2 separate regions of the Homo sapiens genome follow, and region 1 is linked to region 2. The links come from fine-mapping of genetic effects on gene expression. A gene starts in region 2. The other region holds a variant in brackets. All regions are shown on one strand. Distances are from middle to middle. Region 1 overlaps RAB11FIP3 (RAB11 family interacting protein 3). Region 2 holds the start of METTL26 (methyltransferase like 26).

The links. PIP is the estimated chance that this variant, and not a neighbour inherited with it, causes the effect.
Region 1: its variant is the best candidate, but not a certain one, in a credible set for the expression of METTL26 in cerebellum (GTEx, PIP 0.83).

Annotation. Positions count from the first base shown.
Region 1 is chr16:447,460-450,359 of GRCh38, forward strand. The region is part of intron 1 of RAB11FIP3 (RAB11 family interacting protein 3); the gene reads left to right. Among named protein-coding and RNA genes, the nearest start is that of RAB11FIP3, 23 kb to the left of the region's middle. The variant C/T (reference allele first, on the strand shown) is at 1,754.
Region 2 is chr16:635,058-637,957 of GRCh38, forward strand. METTL26 (methyltransferase like 26) reads right to left here and starts at 1,248. Exons shown (of 6, transcript NM_032366.5): 1 at 1,037-1,248; 2 at 555-717; 3 at 224-283. The coding sequence starts at 1,233. TRG-CCC2-2 (tRNA-Gly (anticodon CCC) 2-2) reads right to left here and starts at 1,749; the gene lies at 1,679-1,749. It overlaps LOC100287175 (a long non-coding RNA gene), which reads left to right and starts at 1,895. Exons shown (of 4, transcript NR_149003.1): 1 at 1,895-1,999. RefSeq lists enhancers at 188-847, 2,278-2,900 and silencers at 910-1,089, 1,140-1,259.

The sequences.
Region 1 (2,900 bases), 190 kb before region 2:
CGGGCGCAGTGGCTCACACCTGTAATCCCAGCACTTTGGGAGGCCGAGGCGGTGGATCACGATGTCAGGAGATCGAGACCATCCTGGCTAACACGGTGAAACCTCGTCTCTCCTAATAGTACAAAAAAATTAGCCGGGCGTGGTGGCAGGCACCTATAGTCCCAGCTACTCAGTGGGCTAAGGCAGGAGAATGGTGTGAACCCGGGGGGCAGAGGTTGCAGTGAGCCGAGATCGCGCCACTGCGCTCCAGCCTGGGCAACAGAGCGAGACTCCATCTCCAAAAAAGAAAAGAAGACTAAAACGTATAAATTATACCTGTCTCCCTACAGAAATTCATTAAGAGACTCATGCTCAGACTGTTGTCTGGTTAATGTGAACAACATGAGCACATCTGAAGAAAGGGTGAGAACAAAGGGTTACATTCAGCTTTCAGGTCAACTAATTTAAAACAACAGGACGGGCCAGGCACAATGAATTGTGAAAAATAACGCTGACAATTTAAAATAGTGGAACAAAATTAAAAAAGGAAAAAGAAAAAAAACTGTAAAGAAAATTTGACATATGAAAAAGCGTATTGTCCAGGCGCAGTGGCTCACACCTGTAATCCTAGCATTTTGGGAGGCCGAGGTGGGCGGATCATGTGAGGTCAGGAGTTTGAGACCAGCCTGGCCAACATGGTGAAACCAATCTCTACTAAAAATACAAAAATTAGCCGAGCGTGGTGGCGCGCATCTGTAGTCCCAGCTACTTGGGAGGCTGAGGCAGGAGAATCACTTGAAACCATGAGGCAGAGGTTGCAGTGAGTCGAGATTGCGCCATTGCACTCTAGCCTGGGCAATGAGGGAAACTGTCTCAAAAAAATAGCCGGGCGCAGTGGCTCATGCCTGTAATCCTAGCACTTTGGGAGGCCGAGGTGGGCAGATCACCTGAGGTCAGGAGTTTGAGACCAGCCTGATCAACATGGAGAAACGCCGTCTACTAAAAATACAAAATTAGGCCGGGCGCGGTGGCTCATGCCTGTAATCCCAGCACTTTGGGAGGCCGAGGCAGGTGGATCACGAGGTCAGGAGATCGAGACCATCCTGGCTAACACGGTGAAACCCCTTCTCTAATAAAAATACAAAATATTAGCCGGGCATGGTGGCGGGCGCCTGTAGTCCCAGCTACTCGGGAGGCTGAGGCAGGAGAATGGCGTGAACCCAGGAGGCGGAGCTTGCAGTGAGCCGAGATGGTGCCACTGCACTCCAGCCTGGGCAGCAGAACGAGACTCCGTCTCAAGAAAAAAAAAAAAAAAAAAAATACAAAATTAGCCGGGCGTGGTGGTGCATGCCTGTAATCCCAGCTACTCGGGAGGCTGAAGCAGGAGAATCACTTGAACCTGGGAGGTGGGGGTTGCGGTGAGCCAAGATCGCACCACTGCACTCCAGCCTGGGCAACAAGAGTGAAACTCTGTCTAAAAAAAAATTGAATAACATAAATAAGTAAATAAATAAGTAAATAAAAACAGGATGGAAATTATACCTGAAATTTAAAAAGTAAGATGGCTGTGGTAGGCCAAATAATGGCTCCCAAAGATAGCTAGGTCCTGCTCTGTCCGCTGAGACCACCACACTCTACACAGTAGAGTCCTCCTCATGCTATGCTCTGGCCCTCTTGCCCCTCCAACCTCACTTCCAGCTGCCGGCCCCCTGCTCACTCTGCTCCTGACACTCCACAGGCACACATCCTCCTCCAGGCCTGTGCAGTAGCTATT[C/T]CCTCTGCCTGGAATATGCAGTCCTGTATATCTCCAGCTCAGTGTCTCACAGCGCTGTCACCAGGCGGGACAGAGTGTCGGGCTCATTCAGGTGCTCAGCAGAATTCAGCTCCTTGAGGTTATAGAACTGAGGACCCTGTTTGCTGGTTGGTCGTTTGCCAGAAATGGTTCTTAGGTCCTGGAGAACCCTCAGGTTCAACCACATGGTCCTCCCAGGTATGGCAGCTTACTTCTTCTTTGAGACCAGGAGGCTGCTACGATGGAGTCTTAAGTTAACATAAATCACAGCTAGGTGTGGTGGCTCACACCTGTAGTCCCAGCTACTCAGGAGGCTGAGGTGGGAGGATCGCTTGAGCCTAGGATCTTGAGGCTGCAGTGAGCTGTGTTTACCACACCACTGCACTCCAGCCTGGGTGACAGGGAGACCCTATCTCAAAAAAAAAAAAAAAAAGTTTTAGGCCGGGTGCAGTGGCTCACAGCTATAATCCCAGCACTTTGGGAGGCTGAGTTGGGTGGATCACTTGAGGTCAGGAGTTTGAGACCCGCCTGGCCAACATCGTGAAACCCTGTCTCTACTAAAAATACAAAATTAGCCGTGCGTGATGGCGGGCATCTGTAATCCCAGCTGTTGCGTAGACTGAGGCAGGAGAATTGTTTGAACCCGGGAAGCAGAGGTTGCAGTGAGCCAAGGTCGTGCCACTGCACTCTAGCCTGGGCGACAGAGTGAGGCTCCATCTCAAAAAAAAATTTTGTTTTAAAGATTAAGTTAACCTCGTCACAGTGACTGTGCCACCACATGCACAGGCCTTGCCCACACTCAAGAGAGGGGGTCTTAGAATTCTGCCTGCTACCATGGTCTAGTCTTGGCACACCTTCCTTGACAACATGGAAGCCAGGTCACTACCCAGGCCACCTACAAGGAAGTTCACCATTTGACCTGCCGAACGTGCACAACAAACTTTTTTTCTCTTTCTTGAGACAGGGTCTCACTCTGTCGCCCAGGCTGGAGTGCAGTGGAACAATCTTGGTATACTGCAACCTCTGCCTCCCGGGCTCAAGCGATCCTTCTGTCTCACCCTCCCGAGTAGCTGGGACCACAAGCATGCACCACCATGCCCAGCTCTGGCTAATTTTTTGTATTTTTGGT
Region 2 (2,900 bases):
CCCTCCCTGTCCCCAAGAGGGAGTCAGCCAAGGCCAGCCTGGTGGGCAAGGGGGTAGGGAGGCTGGCAGATGACCCAGGGAGGGGTACAGACTGGAAGTGGAGGGGAGGCCGTGCTGGTGGCTGGGCGGGGGGCAGGGAGCCCAGGAGGGAGGACTCTCAGCAGGGCAGGAGACAGCAGCTAGGACTGGGAGCGGGAGGCCCGCCGTGGACAGGCCCACTCACCCCGTAGGTGATGAGCAGGGCCCTGGGTTTGAGCAGGTGTCCTGCTGCTCTGAAGAGCCCCTGGTGAGTAGGAACAGGACGGCAGTGAGGTGCTGCCCCCAACAGAAGCCAGGCCCTGAGGCTGGAGACCCTCACCCCGACTGTGATGGGGGAGGCTGGAGACCCTCACCCCGACTGTGATGGGGGAGGCTGGAGACCCTCACCCCGACTGTGATGGGGGAGGCTGGAGACCCTCACCCCGACTGTGATGGGGGCAAATCTGGCATCCCAGCTGCCCCCATGCAGGGTGAGTGGTGCCACGGCAGACACCCATGCTGGGCTCCCCACAGACCTCCGTGCAGCGCAGGGGGCTGACATGGGCCATGTTGATGCAGAGCAACAGGTCCAGCGACTGTGGCAGGATCCCGCCCCAGTGCTCCCAGCCCCACGTCACGTCCAGGTGTAGCGGGGCCTTCACGTTGGTCAGGCCCTGGGCTTGCGTGGTGGCCGCGATGCTGCAGGAGGCGAACGCTTGGGTGGGGGCCGAGTCCTGTGCACCCGCCTTTCCGACGCCCCCACAGAATTTCTTAGGGGAGGCTGGGGGGCACGTTGAGGAGCGGAGACCAAAGCGGCTGGGAAGGGGGACCCCGAGGTCCACCCACTTCCGCAGCCGCGGGGGCCGCACAGCTAGGGCCTGCCCCGGGGGCACCCCCAGGCTCCCACCCCGCACCCTCAGAGCCCGAGCCGCATCCTTTTCCTCCGGGGCTGCGGGCCGTGGGCTCTTGAGGCCCCGGACCGCCGCACCGATAGAAGTGGCCGCCCCGGGGGCCGCACCTGTCCAGGCAGCGCTGGTCCACGTCCGACGGCTGCCACTCGGCCAGGGGGAAGGCCCGCGCGAAGTGCGCTGCGTGCTGGCCGGAGCCCGAGGCCACCTCGAGGACGCGGACGCCACGCTGGGCCGGATCCAGGTACTGCCGCAGCACGTGCAAGATGGGATCCTTGTTCCGCTCCGCGGCCGCCGCCACCAGCATCGCGGCAGCAACAACTCCCCGCCGCGGACGCGGCGCGGGTCGCGTCGGGGGCGGTGGCCGGGCTTCCGCGGGGCACGTCGGGAGCTGTAGTCCAGATACCGCGGGGCACGTCGGAAGCTGATAAACTACAACTCCCAGGAGCACGCGCGCCTCCTGTTAAAGGACCAGCAGTCGCCAGAGGCACGGTGGGGAGCGGCTCAGCGGTGTGTGGCGGTCCCAGGCAGGGGACTGAACGGCGAGCTTGGCTTGCTGGTTTACAGGCGCCTCAGCTCAGGCACCCTGTCGCCCATGGCCGTCCAGGGTTTTCAGGGCACCTGTGTCACTCTCCGAAATTTGTGTCAGCGCTGCGCCAGACTGGGCGCCTTCCCTTGGTTTCGGGTTTTCTCTACTTTTAAATTTCTGGCGTTAGCGAGAGTTCGATGTTCAAATGGGAAAAAAAACTAAGTGCGCCGCCCGGGAATCGAACCCGGGTCGCAAGAATGGGAATCTTGCATGATACCACTACACCAGCGGCGCTGTCTAAGACAGTTGCTGCCCGCGGAGACAAGAGACTGTGACGCGGGAAGTCCTCCGGGCGTGCGCCGCCGCTGGCGCCGGGCTCAGCGCAAGGGAGCTGGCGACTGCATAGGAGGACCCAGCTGGCGGGACCGCGAGGGTAAGAGTCTCGCGGTGCCCCCCAGTGCCGGAGGGGAAGGAGCGGGCGTGAAGGACGCGAGCTGGAGGACAGTCTCGATTCGGGCCTGAGCCGTGGAAGCCGTTGGCCTTCGTGAGCCGATGGGGGCGAGGCCCTGTCGGGGCGGGGCTGGGGAGAGGGCGGGGCTGGGCTGGGGCCCCCTGTTGGTCCGAGTTTAGGGCGGGGTTGCCGGAGGGGCGGGGCCATATCGGGGCGGGTCCGAGAGGGGAGGCGGGGCTGGGGGGCGGGACATGAGTGTGGACTGGCGGGTTGGGGCGGGGCCAGAGCGGGGTTGCGGCAGGGGCGGCAGGGGCGGCAGGGGCGGCAGGGGCGGCAGAGGGCGGGGCGGGCGGTCCCAGCCTGCAGAACTGGGCGGTCTGCGGGAGGGGCACGAATAATGCCCCAGGGTTTCTCTGTGACACTGGGGTAACAGCACCAGCTCAGGGCCCACGGATAGCGTGAGGGGTCGGTCGGTGACCCCCGAAATCAAGTCACAGGCCGCGATTTATGTGCGCCCGAGGGTTGGGGTCCCAGCCTCAGAGCCGGGCTCTTCTCCAGAAAGTGCCAAGCGCCTGGCTCTGCATTCAGGACTGGCTTAGCGCCTTTGCTGAGCCGTTTTTCACCAATGGGAACCCCATATCGCTCTGGCTAGGGCAAGGACGTTGGAAGGGGTAAACCAGGGAGGGCCAGTCACGTGGCTCAGGGTAGGAGAGTGGCTTACAGGCTGCCAGTCTGGGACTGGGAACGCGGGCCATGGGGGGCTCAGGGAGTCAGGGGTCAGGGACAACCCTGCCAGGAGATGTTGGTGTCCGCCGTGGTGGTGACTGGCCAGACCCTGCAGCAGGCTCTGCGGCCCAAGCCCACGCTTTCCTCGCCTGACTGGCCGCCTCCATCTCTCTTTCTGTGGGCTGAGCACTTTCCCTGCGCCTCCTTCAATGCGCACCCTGCCCCCAACCCCCACCTCGAGGAGAGCCCCAGGAGGAGGGACCTATGA